3 linked regions of the Homo sapiens genome follow. The protein of the gene in region 3 purifies or fractionates together with the protein of the main gene of each other region. This does not show direct contact. Each region holds a gene or a part of one and is shown on either strand. Other genes may lie near its edges.

Region 1 (7,022 bases), on a different chromosome or scaffold from region 3:
ACAGAAGAATGAATAAATAATGTTATACAATACCACATTAGCAGTTAGATGAATCTGATCAACACAGATAAATTTACTGAAAATATTAGGTTAAAAAAAGGTTGTAGAAAGATACATAGAGTATGATGTACTATTGACATAAAATTTAAAAACACAATACAATGGAAAATATATATGATAAAGTATAAAAAGATGACAGGATACGCACCAAGTTCAGAATAGTCATTACCTCTAAACAAGGGAAGGTGCACAAGAAGCCTTCGAACACATTTGTGATATTTGACTATTAACAACAGAAAATAATCTGGGTTGGGGGAGCCTAAAAACTCTTATGCTAGTATTCATGCTATTATTTTTACCACTTATAGGGTATAATGTGATTAGGAAATTTCAGTTATTCTACTTATAAGGAATTTGCCTGAAAGAAAAGTCAATAAGAACTAGCCCAAAACTGTGATAAAAGAGGAAAAAAGTCAACAAGGAGATAAAAAGCACCTGAGAAAGAATGAATATTGCCCCTAAGACTAAACACAGTGAAATCAGGGTTAAATAATATTCAGGACCATTTTGATGGGAATATAATCATTTTTTAAACAAAACACATATAGTAATCTAAATAACATTTATTACCCACCACCACACATTTGGGAGGCTGAGGTGGGATGTTTTCTTTTTTGCTTTTTGTTTTTTGAGATAGGGGTCTCACTCTGTTGCCCAGGTTGGAGTGTAGTGGCGTGATCACAGCTCACTGCAGCCTTGAACTCCTGGGCTCAAGTGATCCTCCCGTGATATGGTTTGGCTCTGTGTTCACACCCAAATATCACCTTGAATTTTAATAATCCCCACCTATCAAGGGCGGGACAAGGTGGAGATAACTGCATCATGGGGGCAGTTCCCCCATGCTGTTCTTGTGACAGTGAGTTCTCATGAGATAGGATGGTTTTATAAGCACCTGGCATTTCCCCTGCTGGCCCTCATTCTCTTTCCTGCCACCCTGTGAAGAAGTGCCTTCTGCCATGATTGTGAGTTTCCTAAGACATCCGTAGCCATGCGGAACTGTGAGTCAATTAAACCTCTTTTTTAAAATAACTTACCCAGTCTTGGGTATTTCTTCATAGCAGTGTGAATACATCCCACCTCAGCCTCCCAAATAGCTAGGACTACAAGCAAGCACCACAACACCCAGCTAAGTTTTCATTTTTTTGTAGAGTCAGGGAATTGCTATGCTGCCCAGGCTGGTCTTGAACTCCTACCCTCAAGGGATCCTTTCCACCTTAGCCTCCCAAAGTGCTGGGATTACAGGCATGAGCCACCATGCCAGCCCTATTTTGTTAAATGGAATCTATCCAGTTGATGAAGCCAGAAATTCCTATCAAGTACATCATCAAATTCTACTATTCTACTCTAATAAGTAGCTTGATAATCTATCCACTACCACCTCTTACTTAAATATTTGCAACAGCCTCCTCCCTGGTTCTTCGTCCCTTGGCCCCAACCCAATCTCCATTCGGCAGCCAGAATGGTTTTCTAAAAGGAAAAATCATAAATTTCCCTTACAAACTTTTTAATAGCTCCGCACTGCACTCAGGACAGTTCAATCTCTTCCACATGGCTTACAAAGCTCTCCAAGAGATGGCTTCTGCTTACCTCTCTAGTCTCAGCTCTCACTACTCTCACAAAGCCAAACCCCCATATCCACCTGGTGCGTTCACCTCTTGAACTCTACATTAAGCCATACAAACTACATGTTAGTTATCTGAATATGATATGCTCTCTCCTTTTGACCTTTCTACATGTTCCCTCTGTCTGAAACACTTTTCCCACACCCACTCCTGTCTCCCTCTCCCCCATTTTTCTGGCTAATTCCTGGTCCATTAGATCTCAATTTTTTTAATGTGTATCTTCCAGGAATTCTTCCTTTACATCCCTTATGAGGTCCAGCAATAGGTTTCTTTTGATGTGCTCATATGGTATCCTGAATTTCTCCCATCCAAGCACTCATCTTACTATACTGTAAGAATGTTAAATACCCTAATGGCGAGGGTAGTGTATGTCTTGTTCATTATGTGTCCCCAGTACCTAACATAATAGCTGGCACATATTAAGTATTTAATATCTATGAAAACCTGAAACCAATTTTAAAAATAAGGTTATAATCTTATCAAAAGCGTTATAATGTATAATATTAGTAGAAACTGAAAATTTGCAAATTTGTACATTTTTGGAAGTTCAAATTAATGGAATTATATTCCAGCTTAACAGAAATTTTATTTACTATTATACCATGTTTAGTTTTTACCAACGGATACCTTCACCTCAAATAAAGGGAGATGAGCAAGAAAACATTTTGATTAACAACTCATCCCAGTGATTTTTTCTTACGGAGAAAATCAATTTCAATGTGAAGACACAGACAACATATTTTATTTCTGCAGCTGACAATAACAGGAGATAGTAGTGGTAATGAGTCACAAACTTTGAAAAAGTGAGGGACGGCAAAAGTAAATTATCATGAAAGCAACTGTAACTTAAAAAGAGGACTTTGCCAAAAATAGGTCAGAAAGTAGGATGTTCCATACTATGGAACACTTTAAACATATGTGGATACCCAAAACATCTTGGCTTTTAATTATTTAACATATAAACTTTGACTATCAATCCCTTATAGCTTTACATACAAAGCTTTCAAATAGTATTAGGTGTTCTGAATAAAAACATTTGGTGAAATGATAGTTTCTTTTCCTTACACACTAAAATTCCCTACTTAAGTTAGTCTCTATCAATACAAGCTTTCAGAGTAACAAGCTAGAAGCTAGAAGCATACCCGTAACTATTAAGCCCTAAGAGAAAGGGAAGGTGATTCTTTAGTCTTCGAAGGCTATGAAACAAACTACAATTTAAAATCTTAAAATGCAAGTCTTTTTTATACTAACATTGTGTTAATGGACTCAACAGAGAAGCTAGGTGATAGGTATTTTATAGAATGGAAGAATGATCTTACCTGGAAGATTACCCTTTGAGATGGTATCTGTATCCAAATTGTAGGTATCCTGGAGACGTAACAGAGCTTTGGCTGCCCCAACCTGATCTTCATCATTAGGAAAGTACTGTCTCTGAATGGTTAGGTTAGAGATAAAGCCTTGAAATAGATAAATCAAAGAAAAAAAAACTGTAGAACCTCATAAACTTCCCATAAAGAGACTTAATAAGGATTGTTCAAAATCTATTTTATTATTTTCTACCACACCATGAAAAGTTCTACATACTCAACAAGAAAAAATTAAATACACTGAATAAGACTTGGCATACTTCTAACTTGTTCAATCTTCCAAAAGCCTAGTGTTGCTTAAGGACTGTGACGCTGTTATATAAATTGTATCTGTATTAGCAGGTAAAGATCACCTAACATAATAGTTATGAGTTTTTAGTTATATAACACAGCAAGAAAACAAAGTGCATCCACTAAGTTTGAGAAATGAACACATTTATGGGTCTGAAATGACATTCATTGACAATCAATTATACTTCCAGATAACAGATGGTAAGTAAAATATGTGCTCTTAAAGTTGTTTTTTTCTTCCATGTATTACACATTATATAAATATGTAAATATATAAAGTTTGGTGGAATTCTTCAAGGAGAAGGAAGAGATATTAACTATATATTTAAGATCAACAGCAAAGCTAGTTTACTAAAATATATTTAAATCAGTTTAATTATCAAACATGACGTTGATCAACCAAAATTTACAATATATAAACCTAATCTTAGAGGATTTATATAAAGTATGCAAAAATCAAACAAACCAATTACTGATAACTATATAACCCCAAGAAGAATGAATGCTAAACACTCCTTAAGAAATAAAAAATTGGTTTAAAATTTTAATATCAGTATCATTACTTGTGAATAAAAGTTAGGTATGAGACTTCCCTCTCTTCTCATTAACTTATAATCAACTGTTTTGTTTTTTTTTTTTTGAGACAGTCTCACTCTGTCATCCAGGCTGGAGAGCAGTGGCAGTGGCATGATCTCAGCTTACTGCAACCTCCACCTCCCAGGTTCAAGCAATTATCTTGCCTCAGCCTCCCAGTAGCTGGGATTACAGGCATGTGCCACCACACCTGGCTAATTTTTGTATTTCTAGTAGAGACGGGGTTTCACCGTGTTGCCCAGGCTGGTCTCCAACTCCTGGTCTCAAACGATCCACCTGCCTTGGTCTCCCAAAGTGCTGGGATTACAGGCATGAGCAACTGTGTCCAGCCAGCTACGTATTTTGAACAGCAAGAGACCAGGCCTTTTTTTTTTTTTTTTTTTTTTTTTTTTTTTTTGAGATGGAGTCTCGCTCTGTCACCCAGGCTGGAATGCAGCAGTGCAATCTTGGCTCATGGCAACCTCCAACTCCCGGTTCAAGCAATTCTCCTGCCTCAGCCTCCCGACTAGCTGGGATTAAAGGTGCCCACCACCAGGCCCGGCTAACTTTTATATTTTTAGTAGAGACGGGTTTTCACCATGTTGACTAAGCTCCTCTCGAACTCCTGACCTCAAGTGATCTGCCAGCCTCAGCCTCCCAAACTACTAGGATTACAGGCGTGAAATGAAAATGTACAAATGAACAAATAACTAGAAGAGGGCTAGAGTTTATATCAAGCATATTTTTATGCTGTTTTGTCTCTTTTTAGAGACAGAGTCTTGCCATGTTGCCCAGGCTGAAGTGCAGTGGCTTTTTACCAGTATAATTCCATTATTAGATCAATCATGGGAGTTTTGACCTGCTCTGTTCCCAACAATATTTTTAGTTTTACGACCAACTCTCAGTTGCAATCTCTATATGGAATTTTACAAGCAAGTTTTATAAGTTTTATAGAAGGCTATAATATCTCTTATGCTACAAACAAAATTCTAAGAAAAATTAAAATATATATACTCTCTCATAGCATTATAGAATGACTACTACAGATTAAAACAACAAAGTGCCAAGGTTCACATTATAAAACAACTTAGTTCATTACTTGAGAATAAATATATCGATTTCCTTTAAAAAATGGTTCAGGGGCCAGGAACCATGGCTCACGCGTGTAATCCCTAGCGCTGTGGGAGGCTGAGGTGGAAGGATCACATGAGGCCAAGAATTTGAGATCAGCCTGGGCAACATAGCAAGACCTTGTTTCTAAGAAAGAAAAATTTTTAAATTGGCCTGGCGTGGTGGTCTATGCTTGTAGTGCTAGCTACTGAGGAGGCTGAGGTGGGAGGATTGCTTGAGCCCAGGAGTTCAAAGCTGCAGTGAGCCACCATTGTGCCACTGTACTCCAGCCTGGGCAACAGTTAGACAGTGAGACCCTGTCTCCAAAAAAAAAAAAAAAAGTTCCCAAGGTGTTATACAGTACAGAAAATAATCACAGGCATTTCCCTCTCACAGTAAAGAAGTATTCACAAGTACTTGCCATATTTTTCTTTTCAAGGCTTCCTGATCCCTGTGCATAATAAGTTTACTTCACTGCTTACAAACACTGGTAAGTACCCTTGGAGTATTTTATCTACACAACTAGCTCAGCTCTTTTCCGTCTCTCTCTTCTTCTTTTCTTGGCGGGGCAGGGCAGGGGCGGCGGGGGGCGAGGCATAATCCCTTTACCTCCTTAATAAAGTCCAGATTTAGTCTTCTACATCTGTTATTAAAGTATCTAAAACATTTCAATGCTCCAACTACAAATTGTATTGTATCACTTACTCATTTTTACTGTTTGCAGCCTCAGTTTGATTGTCCACATTGAGCAAACTAATTCTAAACTTCAAAATACTAGATAGAACACAGCTAATACTTCTCTTTATAGTAACACTCCCAACATTTTTTTAAATTGATTGCAGATAAAGACATAAATTTTTAAAGTTTGAAGGTAATCCTAAAATAAAAATGATTACCCTCAGAAATGAAGCTATATGCCAAATAATCTATTCACTTTTGCAGATTTCAAAACAAGTCAACAAAAAAAGAAATTACTTCTTTTTTAATCAAAGAATTCAGGATTTTGACTAAATTAACTCTATTCAAACCAAATGCACCCAGGCATAATCCAGTTACAACACTGAACTGAACTGGTTTCCTGGGAACTGAATTTATCATTAATTTTATTATTTCTACATATGGTGGCAATATTACCTTACTCAGGAATCTCTTCAGACTTACCATCTGACATATCCTTAAGGACCAGATTCTCCAACTCACTCCACTCAGTATTCAGACGTTTCATTAATTTGAATGCATTTACTGGATGCCCAACAAATCCTTCTGGATCTTTTGTCGCTGTACTAGTTAGCCGATCTAACTTCTCTGCCCATCTACAGATGTAAAACATAAAAACTGAATATTTATATTTCATAGGGAAAAACACAATTTAATGAAACGCTCAGAAAAAAAATGACTAGAAGTTTTTGAGTTCAACTATATCTGTAGTTTCTTTTTAAAGTAAAAGTATACGGTCTCGGTCTCTTTAAAAAGCGACATCCTCTTGGCAGAATCAATACAACTATAGGACTTTTTGTTTTAATTTTGTTTCTCCCAAATGGTTACAGTAAATGGAACCTCCCTGTCTTAGTAAAAGTTGTGAATGAATCCCTCCAGTAAAAGTCTAAAAATTTTAGACTTAGGTCCCAGGGCCAAATAACTGATTATTACAAACTACAAATTAGCCCAACCCAAATTCAATTACATGTTCATTTAAATCAACTTATACTAAATTTTTACATCCAGTTTCTAGAAACTGTATCTTAAAATGAAAAACTGAACACTTAGCTACTCATTAAATAAAAGACAGGAATTCTCAGGTCAGGATTAACTATGAACATGAGTCAATTAAAAATAAATTCATATTTGAGAAAAACTGTATCAATTAAATAACACTAACGCTACCATCACTATAATCTCTACAATGGAACCATGGGAGTAAAGGATAAGTAGAATTGGAAAATTGCTGCAGCAGGTGGCTTGACTAAGAGGTTAGAAGAGGATAGAAGATATTAGCAAT
Region 2 (7,022 bases), on a different chromosome or scaffold from region 3:
GCTCCCACAACACGAGGTGGAGGCCGGAAGACAGGCAGCGAGGCCGACACCCACGCCAAACATCCTCTTTGGAGGGGCTCTCTACTTCTGACAGCCCAGCTCCACATCCTCCCTGCTGCAGGCCAGGCCCGGACTGAGCAGGGAGTGGCTGCAGGGCCTGGAGATGGCCCCAACCACTCCTCACACCAGCCCTGCCCACAGCTGCTCACTCAGCACCCGCAGGGCAGGTGGCCTTTATGCTGGCAGTGGCGGAGCCCCGACTTCTAGCAAAAGCGTCTGCCTGGAGGCCACAGAAGCCAAGTCATGGTGCCAGGGCTACGAGCAGCCATGGGGGTGGGGGAGCCCAGGGAAGGGGAGGGCATAGGGAAACTGAGGCCCGGAAAGCTGGGCTGGCATGGAGCAGGCGGCAGCGGCAACCAGGCTCTCTTTTGTCATCACTGGCGACAGCAGGGATTTGGGTCAGGTGCACAGAAGGACTCAGAAACCGGGGCCCGGGGGACGCCAAGAAGTGGAGCAGCCTCTGCTCATCTGGAGTGTTCCCGAGGCAGCCGGTGTGTGGTGCCAGGGCCCCTCATCACCTGGAGGGCTCTGCCCACCGTGCCTGCTGCACCCACCGCCAGCAACAGGGAGCCTGACAGCCTCAAGGCACGTGAGCAGCAAGAGCCGTGCCCCACACCACGAGGCTCCAGGGCCGGGTGTGGCAGCTGGAGGGAGGCCAGGCCAGAAGCCAGCAGTGGACCATGAGGAGCCTCTCCCTCCAGTCCCGACACGGGGGTCTCATGAGGAGAGACTCCTTCGAATCCCGACACGGGGGTCTCAGAGCAACACTCCGTATCACCTCCCCTCACAGCCAGGGCCTGGGGGTGGCCGAGCACAAGATTTCCTCACAGCCCTCCTCGTAGTGAAGAGGAATGGAAAAGACGCCGGGCGCGGTGGCTCACATCTGTAATCCCTGCACTTTGGGAGGCTGAGGAGAGTGAATCACTTGAGGTCAGGAGTTTGAGACGAACCTGGCCAACATGGTAAAACCCCATTTCTACTAAAAATTAAAAAAAAATTAGCCAGGCATGGTGGTGGGCGCCTGTAATCTCAGCTACTCAGGAGGCTGAGGCAAGAGGATTGTTTGAACCCGGGAGGCAGAGGTTGCAGTCAGCTGAGATCGTGTCACTGCACTCCAGCCTGGGCGACAAGAATGAGACTTTGTCTCAAAAAAAAAAAAAAAAAAGGAATGTTAAAGGTTTGTAAGTGATGGTGGACTGTGGGTCGGGGTGGACCCTGAGCGAGGGCCCCTGGACGGGGGCTGGTGGGGCGGGACACTTACTGCTTTCCTTCTGTGGCCGGCTTAAGAACATACTTGTCAAAATACATTCTCACCAGGCGCTCCCGTTCCTCCTGCCCTGGCAGGTCGAAGTGGACCATCTCATTGATGCGGTCATTGATGGCCCAGTCGAACTGCTCTGGTTGGTTGCTGGCCAGGACCAGCATGAACCTGCGGGGCGGGGATGAGGATGAGGATGCTGGGGCTGCCGGCCGAGCTGCACCAAGGGGAACGGGGCCTCCTCAGCCCCCACAGGGAGAACCTAAAGTGGCGGGAAACACGAGGACACGGGCACAGCCCTGGTCGGCCACCTGCCCCACTGCACCCAGCTGTCCCCCGGCCTGGCTTCCTGGGCCTCTGTTCTCCCTCCATATAGTGCTTTCCCGCTGACCCTCGCCCAGCCTGATAGGCAGTGCCGGGAACACCACTCTCTCCTGCTGCCTGACCCCTGCTGTGCTGGGAGCAGGGATTCGGGACCCGGAGTCCATGTCGAGAAGTCGCCCACACGTGCCAGGAGCAGGACCTCAGGGGCCCGGGTTCACTGGAGGCTCAGCAGGGCCCCAGCCTTGCCTCTCTGGGAAGGACCCGAGTCAGGGCTCCAGGGAGCATCCACCGGCAGCAGCTGACCTGGGAGCCCAACGTGCCTGAGGAGTCAGCCACGGCCGACCAGCAGGACTTGATCCTCCGTGTGACACGTGACTGGGGCTGGAGGGGCCCAGGAGACCAAGAAAACTCAAAATTAGGGGACTTGGGAGGGACTAGGGAGCCTGGCCATGGGGCGGTCACCCTATGGGGGACCTCTGGGCGGCAGCCCACAGAGGCCACACAAAGTCGGGTGGGCCCCAAGCCTGGAGGGTGCACCCTTGGCCAGCATCCGGGCGGGGGACCAAGGTCCCAGGTTCCGCCCCGACACACAGGACCTGCTGGTGTCCAACTTCCCGTGGGAGCAAACTTGTCTCCATCTCCCACCCCAGGGCACACACACCCTCCAAGGGAGACCCAGCAGAGCCTCACACGATGAGACCACCTCCCTTGCAGGCACAGGACCGCAGAAACCTAGGGGCAGAGGGACCTGCAAGCTGGGGCGGCGGCGCACAGGGCCGTGAGGACAGGACTGACCCCAGCTCTGCCCGGGAGGCCCCCGCATGTTCCTCAGTGACACCCCGTGCTGTCCCGAGCTGGGCCGTTCCCAGGGGACATCCGAGGTGGGCATGTTGAGGCCACGGCAGCTGCCCAGCACTGTGAGCCAGGGCCCCTCAGGTCCCTCGGTGGGAACCAAGGGCGACGGCTGCACAGCCCTGCCCGGGGGCCCAGGACCCGAGGGGCTCCCTCACTTGTTGCTGTGCTGGCCCGTGCGGTACAGGAAGGCGTTCAGTGTGGCCCTGAGGTCCTCGCTTATCTTCTCCTGCAGAGAGAAGGTTCCAGCCTTAGGCACCAGGAGCAAAGCCTTGTAAACAGCCACAGCAGAAAGTCCCACAGGCCTCCCTCCTGCAGGGAGCAGGGACATGGCGACACTTTCATGGATCTACTCTCAAAAGCCTGACCAGGGCCAGGGGCGGTGGCTCACGAATGTAACCTGGATTTTGGGAGGCTGAGGCGGGCAGATCACACGAGGTAAGGAGTTTGAGACCATCCTGGCCAACATGGTGAGACCCCGTCTCTACTAAAAATACAAAAATTAGCCAGGCGTGGTGGCGCACCTGTAGTCCCAGCTACGTGGGAGGCTGAGGCACGAGAATCACTGAAACCTGGGAGGCAGAGGTTGTAGTGAGCTGAAATTGCACCGCTGCACTCCAGCGTGGGCAACAGAGTAAAATTCTGCCTTAAAAAAAAAAAAAAGAAAAAGAAAAGAAAGCCTGACCGGGCACGGGGGCTCACATCTGTAATCCCAGCACTTCAGAACGTCAAGGGAGGCAAATCTCTTTAGCTCAGAAGTTTGAGCCCAGTCTGGGCAACGTGAGGAAACTCCATCTCTACTAAAATTACAAAAAAATTAGACAGGTATTCCACTGTGCCCCTGCAGTCCCAGCTACTCAGGCGGCTGAGGCAGGAGGATTGCTTGAGCTCCAGAGGTCGAGGCAACAGTGAGCTGTGATCGCCCCTGCACTCCAGCCTGGGCGACAGAGACCCTGTCTTAGAATGATAATTAAAAGGCTGGGCGTGGTGGCTCACGCCTGTAATCCCAGCACTTTGGGAGGCCAAGGCGGGAGGATCACGAGGTCAGGAGATCGAGACCATCCTGGCTAACACGGTGAAACCCCGTCTCTGCTAAAAACACAAAAAATTAGCCAGGTGTGGTGGCGGGAGCCTGTAGTCCCAGCTACTTGGGAGGCTGAGGCGGGAGAATGGCGTGAACCTGGGAGGTGGAGCTTGCAGTGAGCCGAGATGGGGCCATTGCACTCCAGCCTGGGTGATAGAGCGAGATTTCTTCTCAAAAAAAAAAAAAAAAAAAGCTGTTTTTCACACAAAGCTTACAGAGAAAAAGAAACTGAACAGAGGGCTGCAGCCTGGCCCAGGCAGACGGCTGTGCCCACCCCACCACCCCATTGTGGCCAGAGGCTTAGTGACACTCACGGTGGCTCGCTTCCGAAGGAAGGCGTCCGCTTCATCCACAAAGAGCAGGAGGCTGTGAACGAGAGGGAGGCCAAGCAGGGCGAGAGTGACACCAGGAGCAGCCCACAGCAGCGTCCGGCCGCGGCAGGAGCAGGCCAAGCAGGCAGATCCCCACGGGGTCAGGCTCTGCCCCATCAGCAGCCCTAAGTCCTGGACTCGACAGAAGCCGATCAGCCTGGCCTCTGGGCAGCTGACCACGGCCCAGCCTCAGAAGGCCGTGGGAAACCAACCACACACGGGGGCGACGAACTCCGCCCCACAGGCTTCACCCCCACCCGGCCCAGTGCAGCACTGGTGGCCGCTTAGAGTCCACGACAGGGACAGGTCTTCTAAAGTGAAAGGTCAAAGGCCAGAGGGGAGGGTGCCAACCATGAGCATCGTGGTTCCAACGAGGACAGCCGAGGCCACAAGGGTGCCCGGGCTGTGCCCTGCGCGGGGTCACTGTGGGACCTATTGAAGGGAGTGTGCCATGCTGTCTTCAGCTAACTTTCAAATGGTTCTAGAAAAGGCAACCAGTGCCCACGCCCACCTGCAGGCGTGTTGGGGGGAGGGCGGCTGTGGAGGAGCCTCCCCTGCAGCTGTGAAGACTCCTCTCCCCCTGCACCCACCCACCTCCCTTCTGCCCTGAGCCAAGTATCCCACTGGCAGCCTCCACACGCTGGGGGCCTCGTGTCCACCAGGGTCCACACTCAGGGGACTTTCCCTCCGAGGGACCCTCCACTGGGCCTCCTGCGTGGCCACAAGGACAGAGCTGCAGAAAGACAGGGTCCCCAAGAGACACCTGGACCCCCTTCCCAGAAGGCAGCCTGCTGGGCCGCAGCCAAGGGCCTGGTGCATGCTGTGGGGACGTCTCACCCGCGCCGGCTGGTATTGGCCCAGTCAAAGAGCTTGTGCATGGCGGTCACGCCTTCCCGCCCCATGGGGGCCACGTCCCCGCCTGTCATGATGGCGTAGTCCATGCCTGAGTGCAGGGCGAGTTTCTGGACAGGAAGAGTGAGGGGAGACAGAGCAGATGTTCCCTCCGCCTCTGCAAAGCCTGCACACTCCACCCGGAGTGTGGAGGCTCTGCCCAGCGTCCCTGCCTGGAAGCCACAGCCTGCCAGACAGGAGACGTCCCCCGCCTGGAAGATGGGAGGCGCTGCTGCCCACACCAGCACCCTGAGCCTACACGAGGGTGGGCAAAGGCCTAAGGGGGGTCCATTCCCCAGGCAGCTGAGCCCCCCAGACACCTGCAGGCAGGTGAGACCCCAGCGGCCCCTGGCCCACCTGTTCAGCCAGGCGCTCTCACCTTGGCAAACAGCGTCTTCCCGGTGCCTGGTGGCCCGTACATCAGGATGTTCCTGTACAGGCTGCGGTTCTTCTTGGTGTTCCTTGTTGCTATGGCGATGTCGCGCACCCGTGCTTCCAGGCTGGGCTGCCGGGGAAGACGGGGGTTTGGAGGAGACACTGTGCACCCATGGAAGCCTCAGGGGAAGGGGCTGCGGGAATGCCTGGGTGCAGACTCGGCTCCTCGGGAAGCCTCCCACCTCAGGGGCAGCCTATCTATCCCCAGCACGGTCCAAGCAGTCGCATCTCAGGACCCAAAAGCTCCTGGGTGCCACCACGAGCGCCAGCAAGGGCCACAGCCCGGCCCAGCTCCAGGGTCCCCTCCCTGCGCCTCCCCGGTCCCAGGCACACCGACTTACACTGAGCACAACACCCTCCAGCGCGTCCTGGGGTCGACTGAGGAGCCGCCGGCTGACCTGCCGGAGGGGAAGGGGAAGCGCCATCGGGTCACCTGCCACAGCCACGGAACAGCCACCAACGCGCACACACACGCTCGGTAACACGCAGAAACGGAGCTGCCCCAAAGCACAGCCAGGACCGGCCCGGAGCTGGAACCCTGCCCCGCCCGGAGACCAGGCGGCTATTGCTGGGATTAGGGGCATTTTCCGGTTCCTTATTGGCTTTTATTTTCTTAACCACCTACCCAGTGACCTGTGGAGAGCAGGCACCTCGGGGGCGGCGAGCGGCGCGGCTCCCCAGGGAGGCCACCAGACGCCGTGGCCTGTAGCAGCTTCCCTGATAGACGGCCGCACACCCAAGTCCCGGGTCTTGCAAGGACCCCGATGTGCTCCCAGGCCCCATCAAGAGCCCTGAGCAGGGGACACCGAGGCAGACAGGGGAAGGGTCTCACTGATGCAGACCCCTAAGGTACAGCGCCAGACAGGAAAACCCACCCGTGAAGCAGTGTGCGGGTGCCCGTTATCCGGGGAAAGGGAAGGGACGGGAGGGTGTGCGTGGGCTGTGCTCGTGGGGCAGAAGGGACTCAGCCAGGAACTGCACTCAGGGAGGGCCAGGCCTGCGCTGCTACCTGGATGGGGTGCCGCAGCGCCTCAAGCACCGTGATGCGGGACGTCTCCCTCACTAGGGACGGCTTCCCCAGCCGAGCCTCGATGAAGCGGCCGGCGACAAGCGTGGCATTCTTGGCTGAGTAGACCCCAACAGCCAGCAGCGTCAGCCCAGCCACCTGCAGCAGAGACACCGCACTGGCGCACCGGCCCCCACCGTCCCTCCCTCTTAGAGCAGGAGACGCACGGGGCTGCCCCCACCCTCTCTCCGCCCGAGGGAGAAGCACAGGGCCGTGCACTGGCCCCACAGGAACGCGAATTCCCGGCCCCGAATCCCACAGCCACGCGGTTACAGGAGGCAGGTGGGGCAGTCACAGCGCCCTCACTCAGGGCCATTTTCTCTGCAACTGGCAGCATAAATCCTAGAAAGCCTCGGTCGCTGAGCGGGGCCCTGGACAGACCCAGCCGGATGTCACAGGGCCACACCCTCTGGTACATTCTTGGCCACTAAAAATGGTACTTTATTCCTGGAAAACAAGACTAACCCAAAATCTCTAACTCGTTTTAAAAATCAATTAGGCTGGCTGGGCACAGTAGCTCAGGTCTGTAATCCCAGCACTTTGGGAGGCTGAGGCAGGTGGATCACCTGAGGTCAAGAGTTCAAGACCAGCCTAACCCACATGGAGAAACCCCGTCTCTACTAAAAATACAAAAAATTAGCTGGCCATGGTGGCACATGCCTGTAATCCCATCTACTTGGG
Region 3 (7,022 bases):
TCAGGGGAAGGCCATGAGCAAGAGGCTGCTCCTCTCCCTCCCAGGGCCCCTCCCCAGGTACCTCTGACCCCAGGACCCCCTAGGGAGAAGGGGATGCAGCCAGATGCTGAGGACCTCCCTGGGGAAGGGTCCAGCAGGGCCCAGAGACTGAAGAAGGGACCGTCGGGGCTGGGGTGGCTCCTAGGAGGAGCAGGTCTGCAGCCCTGTGTCCCTTCTGCCTCCCAGGCGGGAGTCCTCCCTCCCAGGCGGGACACGTACCTTCCCGAACCAGCCACGGCCGATTTCCTTCAGGTACAGGAGGCTGTGCCGGCCCACGTCTGTGGACTTGAGGAGCTGCACTGTAACCAAGCAGGGGGTTCAGGGACCCAGTGTGGCCTCCGCACCCCCCAGCTTCCTCACCCGGCCCCTGGAGGGGCTGCCCGCTTGGCCTTTTCTGGGAAACTGTCCTGAGTCCCTAGCACCAGCTGGCAACCTTGGGGCCACCATCAGGAGCCAGGGTCTCTTGAGAGCAGGGGCCGCTGCTTCCCAGAAAAGCCACGGAGCTGCAGGATCCATCCGGGCATCTTTCTGGGTAGGTCTGGAGAAGGTGCCTGAAGCCACTGGGATAGCCCGGCCAGGGACAGCAGGGCCCGGAGCTCGACCCGTCACATGGGCTGCACCAGGCAGGCAGTGTGGCTGAGCAAGAGGCTGGGGCCACGGCACAGAGAGGGCACTGGAGCGGCCCACCCCCACCCTGCCGCAGGCTGGCATCCCACGCCGGGCGCACCAAAGGCTCCTTTGTTGGGGGCTGCTTGGCACGGCCCCGCACGGAGCACACTGGCCCATTCTCCCCGAGGGCCAGGCCGGGTGAGGTCAGCGGGAGGAAGGGTCAGTGAGGCCCGGGACGAAGGGGCCAGCGCTGGCAGAGCCCACTCATGCCTGCCCACGCCCCGAGGGATTCCCCGAATTCTGCTCCCACGTCAACTGCCCAGAGGGCTGACAGGCCTGGGTCTGAGCCTGGCTGCCAGGAGAGCCCAGGGGGAGGGGGCTCCTTCCAGGGCCTGGAGACCCAGAGAATGTAGAGGCGGGGCAGGGCAGAATTGAGCGTGTGGGCCCACCGGGTGCTGTGTCCTGAGCCCAGCCTGTCTGGGCGGCCCTCTCTCACCCTGGGGCGCCCAGGCCCACACTGTCCCTGAGCAAGTGTGGGGGTCCTGACCATGGGTGCTGAGACAGTTCAGAGGCCCTGGGCACTGCCGGAGGCAGCAGGCAGCCGTCCTTCTCTGCGGTCCCCAGCGGGTGGGGCCATTGCCCAGGTTTCTCCCCGCTGACCTCTGGGGCTACTTTTCTGACCTCACCCCAATCTCTCTCCTCCCTAGAAGCACATTCCTCCCCCAGAAAACTGAAACCAGAGCTGCAAAAGTAGAGAGACAGGTAACCAGTGCCTTCTTTCGGGCTCCTGTTCGCCAACCCCAGTCCCCACAGCAATCCTCCAGAGGTGGCTCTGAGAATCTTCGGGGGCCAGGCACACACCTGCCCCTGGACCCAAGGGCAGTACCCCCTCGGATGGTCCCTGGCAGCTCCCAGCAGGGTCAGCACAGGGCTCAGGGACCCCCACAGCCATCCGGGAAGGTCCGAGGGCCTCACGCTCTGAGTGGGTGGCTGCAGTCCTCCGCGCCCGCCCACAGATGTACTCGAGCTCAAGTGCCAGCCCTGATTCCTGCCGAACTGGGAACCTGTCCTCCAGGAGATGGGGCAGAGTAGGACAGGCGTTGAGGCCTTGGCTCCAAAGCTGGGGGCTGGGGGCCCTCTCTAGGTCCCAGACCAGTGCCTTGGGCCTCTCAGCCCACGATGAAGGCTAGGCTCTCAGGGCCCAGCCAGGCACAGTTCATAGCCAGCTCTCAGGGTCCAGCCAGGCACGGCTCAGAGCAGGTGAGGTGGCCTGCATGGCACCGCAGTAACAGGCCCTGGTGCCAACAGAGCCCCAACAGGGCTGGCAGGGGCCCCTCCCACTGGCCTGATACCCCTCCTGCCTCTGTGTTCCCAGAGGAGCTGGGGGTGGGCAGTGATGGGGGAAGCCTCAGGCTGGAAGCTTCCTGGGAGGGGGCTTGAGATCTGATAGCTCTGGAGGGACCCGCACCCACCACCTAGGCTCCAAGACAGAACTGGGAGGTCCTGAAGCCTGGCCATTCACCCCCAAACTCCCCAGCACGTCCGCCCCATGTGAGTGGTCGGCCTAGGACCCTAGGATGGGGGCAGATGAGGCTGTGGCTGAGGCCCTGCCTGCACCTGCACTCCTGGGTCAGCCCCACCCCTCGGCCCCTCCTCGCAGCCTGAGTGAAAGGCTAATTCACCACCCGCCCACACGGGCCCCACCAGCGCCCCTCCTCCTGCCATGCACAATGGAACCCGTGTCCCTGAAGGGCTGGCGCTCAAGGGGGCAGGAATCTGGGGTCAAGCATCCCTGGACTGCAGAAGAGCCCCTGCCCCCAGCACATGGCCATGTCCAGGACCAGAGAGCCCGCACCCCTGCCCCAGTGCCCACCCCTGCCCCGTGCCCACCCCTGTCCCTGTGCATAGCAGCCCCTTGGGCAGGGGAGGCTGGAGGCCGAGGGCTGTCCTGGACCCTGCCAACCCCTGGCCGGCCCCCAGGCCCAGGAGAAAGAGGTACATGCACCTTTGGCCCCACAGTGCGGCCTGTGACGCAGCCACAGGGAGTCCAGGGCTGCACACTGCGTCTACCCCACAGGCCACTCCCAGCCCTGTGCTGCCCCCACTCCAGAGCTGAGTCTTCCGGTCTCCCCAGATCACACCCAACGCCCAGCACCTGGGCCCCGGAGGGAGGCCACCCCATCTCCCCACCCAGCCCTCACCTGAGCGCCCAGGCTGCTTGGCCATGGGCAAGGAGACCTCCGTGAGTGGCAGGACGTACACGTCGGGCCCGTTCTGTGCTGCCGTGGCCGGGGAGCCCTGCGCCAGGTCGGCTGCGTACTCGTCCCCCTCCGCATTCTCAAACTCCTGCGGGCCGGGCCGGGCATGAGCGGGGCTTCTCGCAGGTCAAGGAAGGGTGTGGCTGGGCCTGGAAAGGCCCCTTTCTTCCAGGGCCGAGCTCCCAGGGCAGGGCAGGAGGGGGTGCTCGGCCCAGAGTTGGAGCCACCGCCCCTGCAGGCCAATGGCCCAGCACCCCTGCTAACTGCCCTTCCATCTGTCTCCTCTTGCTGACCCCCACGCCCCCGACCAGAGGCTCAGTTGTTCCATGAGGGGCCAGAGGCAGATCCCAGAGCCAAGAGGACCCATCTCAGACTCCAGAAAGGGCGCGATGAGCTGTAGGCACCAGCGCCTCAGCCTGGCCTCAGTTCCCCCATCCCTCCCTGGCGGGCAGCCCAGGCTGAGCCCCACCTTGGGGCCTGAGGGTCTAGAGGCAGGGAACCAAGGGACAGAGGTGAGGGCACTCAGGCCAGCTGGCCCTGCCCATCCAGAATCAGCCCCCAGCACCTCTCAGCCACCCACATCCCGAGCAGCCCCTCACCCCGGGCTGTGCCTGGGGTCCCACCCTCCCATGGCGCAGCTTCGGGGACAGGAATTCCATCACCCCCTGCCCCACAGTCCTGTGGGAGAAGCAATTAAGTGCCCCCACCCCTGCCGGGACAAGGAGCATTCCTGGATGTCTGGGAGCCCAGAGCCAACCGGCCACCTTTACCCTGGGCAGCCCACCTGCCACCGCCATCTGCCCCAGCAGCCTTGGACCTTCACCTGGTGGCCACACCACCTCCGGAGCTCCCAGAACTCCTTAAGAGCCTGGCCCCGTGCAGCCTAGGGCTGGGCCACTCCCTGCCAGGCTGCTATTTTGAAATGTAGAGGCTGCACCTGTATAGGGGATACCCCACCCCCAAGTCCAGGGCACATTCCTGCGCTGAGAGCCAAAGTCTCCAAAGTCCTGGGCCCAGCTGAAAGCAATTGCTCCAGGCACACAATGACAGCCCCAATCCCTGAGCACTTGGTACAGCCTTTCTGTCCTTCCTCACAACCCCCAGTGCCCTGGTGGGGAAGCTGAGGCTCAGAGGAGTCAAGGGACTTCCAGCTGGATGCTGGCCAGCACCCGGGCTGGTGAGTCCGAGGACAGGCAGGTGCAGTGGGAGGGGAGGCCTGGGCTCCTCAAGTACGACGTGTGACCCTGGGGACGCCTCCCTTCCCTGGGCTGCAAAGAGAGGGGCAGGTGGCTCTGTCGGTATTCCCGCAGGCCAGGCCCAGCCTGCCCTTTCGGAGCACACAGCCACTCAGGGATGGGGGACGCAGGTGCTGCGTGGGCAACTTCCCCTCCCCGGGACCCAGAAGACCACCCCAGAAGCCCCCTCTTGGGCCCTCCAATCCCAGCCCCGGCCTGGCCCCACCCATCTGGGCTTTGTAGAGGGGCCCAGGACACAGATGCTGTCTCTCCCTGGGGTCGGGCCCGGGCTCCAGGCATTACCTGCTGCCCGGGGGCCAGCCGGGTCCTGCCGATACAGCGTGCAATCAGGTAGCACAGGGTCAGCATTGGGGGCCTGCCCAGCCCCTTCCCTCAGCACAGCTCCCCACCAGGGAGCCCAGCGCAGGTCCCCAAATCCCAGGAGGGAGCCCAGTGTGGAGGCAGGACTTCCCAGGGGCACACTGGTGCTGGAATGTTCCGGGCACCATGTTCCCAAGGAGGTGAGGAGGGCGCAGGAGGAGGAGCTATGGCCAGCCCTTGTTTGGGGCCTTGTTCTTACAGTGCCCCAAGGAGGGGCCACTTATACAATAGCCCCACTCGTCCCACCCAGGCCCCACCTCCACTCCTGCTCCCGCCAAGACCTTGAGGCTCTGGCCTCGGGATCCCCAGGAAGGCGCCTGCGCGGCCTGGCCTGGCCCCTGGTGCCAGCGGGTCAGGGGTACATCCCAGAGCAGGGTGGGGGCTCTGGGCAGGAGTGCAGACCCCACAGCCTGGGGCCACAGCTTTGCCCCCCAGGCACGCAGCTCCTCACTGGTTGATGGGGCCTGTGGCCACTTCAGAGGGCTCTGGAAGGTTGAATGGGCTGGAAAATGTGGCCTTTAGAAAAGGCAAAAAGGCCACATCCAGCACCGTCACCTGCCAGGCCAGCGGGACAGGTGGGCAGAGCCAGCTCCTTGGCCCATTCTGCGTCATGACATACCAGGGGCAGGGAGGACTCTGGGACTGTCTCCCAAATGGGGGTGGCGCCAGCTGAGTCATGGGTCACTTAGTAGGAAGGCACCCTGAGATACAGACAGGGTGCTGTGCGCGCTGCAGAATGCCTCCTCCCACCCTCCTCCCTCCCTGACTTCTCCTGGCGTAGGAATCTGACCTCTGGCCCAGGGGTGGGGCTGACCCCCGTGGGCGTGTGAACCACCAGAGGTCCAGGCCAGGGTGTCATTTGCTCATCAGCAGGAATGGGACCCATGGAGACTCTGGGAGGGGGAGGCGATGCTGGCCGGGGTTCCTTCTGCCTGGCCCTCCCTGCTGCTCAGAGTTACAGCTGGAGGTGGGCTGGGGGTTTGCAGGGGGAGGAGCAGTGCTTGGCACCTGTCCTTGGCCAGGGGCCTTGGCCTCCAGAGGGGCAGCCTAGTGAGGCCAGGCCTCACCCTTGGCGGGGCTCCCTAACCAGCAGGCTGGGCTCTAGCATCACACATCGTCCCCTCCAGAAGGCAGAAGATACCCCGCGCAAGGTGACTCCAACTGGCAAGAAGGTCCCTGTGCCGGGAAGCTTGTCTGGGCAGCCCGGACTCCCCTTTGCAGATTGAATTCGGAGGGACGTGAGAGCCCCTTGCAGAGGCAGCTCCTCCACCAGGAGTCGGGCCTCTAGGGAGGCAAGCCCCCTCCCACACCAGCTCCAGAGCCCCCGACGCCCCCTGCAAGGCTGTCCTCAGCCTCCGTGAGTGCTCGGGCCCAACCCCAGGCTGGAGTGGGAGCGTCAGACCACGCCCCCCACAGAGGGCCTCAAAGTCGAGGAAGCTGGGGCAGGTCCCTGAGGAGGAGCTATGGAGTCCCTGGGCCAGGGTCCACGTGGTCCCCAGGTGGCCCCACAGCAACTACGGCCACCCAGCAGCCACCTTGATGGCCCCAGGAAGGAGGGAAGCTCAGGGTCAAGTGGACGCTACAGGCCTTGCCTGCGGGATCCCACGACAGCTCCCGCGGCCCCCAGGCCTCACCTTGAACCCGATACCGCCCTTCTTACAGCACAGGCAGGCCAGCATGAGGACGATGACGGCGAAGAGCCCGGAGAAAGACACAGCCACCACGGCGAGGGAGGATGGCCAGGACAGCTCGCTGAGCGGGGCGCCGTCTGCGGGAGAGCAGTGTGGTGAGAGTGGCCATGGCTGAGGGCCGGCCAGGCCCCTGCCCCTGCTCTGGGCTCCACAGCCCCACCTGGACTTGCTGCATTCCAGGCTGGGCCTCAGCACCCTGACCTCTCACCCCAGACCCCACACCTCACAGTGTGGCGAGGAGGTGGCCAGAGCCTGCAGTCCTGCAGCCAGCCACTGGACACCACCCTGGCTTCGCCAGGGGGACATAGGGTTGGCAGAGTGACCAGAGCCTGCCCAGTTCCCAATTCTGGGGTTCAGATACCCCTGAGAGGTCAGGGTCTCAGGGGCTACAGGGGGACCCCCATCTCCCTCCCAGATCCCAGTCACCCCACCTTGCCCCTCTGGGGCTGGGAAGGGAACATGGACTCTGTCAAACACGGGAGACCATGTTGCTGGCTGCTATCTGCTGGCCACACACCAGGCTCTGGACAGCGGGGGCTCAAGGCCCTTCCAGCCTCTGAGGTGCGGGGACCTCACTGTCCCTGAGAAGGTGGTGCTGCCTCTGCCAGGCAGCAGGGCTCCCGTGTGCCACCTGCTGCCTCGAATCCGTCCCCTTGCCAAACCCACTGCCAGGCCCCTCTGGTGCTGCTTCTGTCCTGGGAACCATGGGGAAACCCCGTTCTGCAGCTGCTGGTCCATGGAGCCCCTCATCCCAGAGGGGAACTGACAGTACAGCATCCCTCCCAACTTCGGAGTATTGAGCTGAGCCC

Evidence for each region.
Region 1: the proteins of AATK (region 3) and P4HA1 purify together in Homo sapiens (affinity purification with mass spectrometry; 2 studies listed by BioGRID and IntAct, with this or other methods). This does not show direct contact.
Region 2: the proteins of AATK (region 3) and ATAD3A purify together in Homo sapiens (affinity purification with mass spectrometry; 2 studies listed by BioGRID and IntAct, with this or other methods). This does not show direct contact.

Annotation. Positions count from the first base shown.
Region 1 is NC_000010.11:73,065,845-73,072,866, forward strand, and holds part of P4HA1 (prolyl 4-hydroxylase subunit alpha-1 isoform 2 precursor), read right to left. Parts: intron 6,337-7,022; coding exon 6,185-6,336; intron 3,140-6,184; coding exon 3,002-3,139; intron 1-3,001. UniProt on the Homo sapiens protein: Catalyzes the post-translational formation of 4-hydroxyproline in -Xaa-Pro-Gly- sequences in collagens and other proteins.
Region 2 is NC_000001.11:1,522,162-1,529,183, reverse strand, and holds part of ATAD3A (ATPase family AAA domain-containing protein 3A), read right to left. Parts: intron 6,441-7,022; coding exon 6,285-6,440; intron 5,674-6,284; coding exon 5,617-5,673; intron 5,346-5,616; coding exon 5,220-5,345; intron 4,912-5,219; coding exon 4,787-4,911; intron 3,945-4,786; coding exon 3,893-3,944; intron 2,724-3,892; coding exon 2,653-2,723; intron 2,024-2,652; coding exon of another isoform or gene 1,909-2,023; exon of another isoform or gene 1,502-1,908; intron 1,490-1,501; coding exon 1,322-1,489; intron 1-1,321. UniProt on the Homo sapiens protein: Essential for mitochondrial network organization, mitochondrial metabolism and cell growth at organism and cellular level. May play an important role in mitochondrial protein synthesis. May also participate in mitochondrial DNA replication.
Region 3 is NC_000017.11:81,128,212-81,135,233, forward strand, and holds part of AATK (serine/threonine-protein kinase LMTK1), read right to left. Parts: exon of another isoform or gene 6,291-7,022; coding exon 6,157-6,290; intron 5,098-6,156; exon of another isoform or gene 4,985-5,097; intron 4,084-4,984; exon of another isoform or gene 3,834-4,083; intron 3,744-3,833; exon of another isoform or gene 3,691-3,743; intron 2,995-3,690; coding exon 2,850-2,994; intron 1,411-2,849; exon of another isoform or gene 947-1,410; intron 339-946; coding exon 259-338; intron 1-258. UniProt on the Homo sapiens protein: May be involved in neuronal differentiation.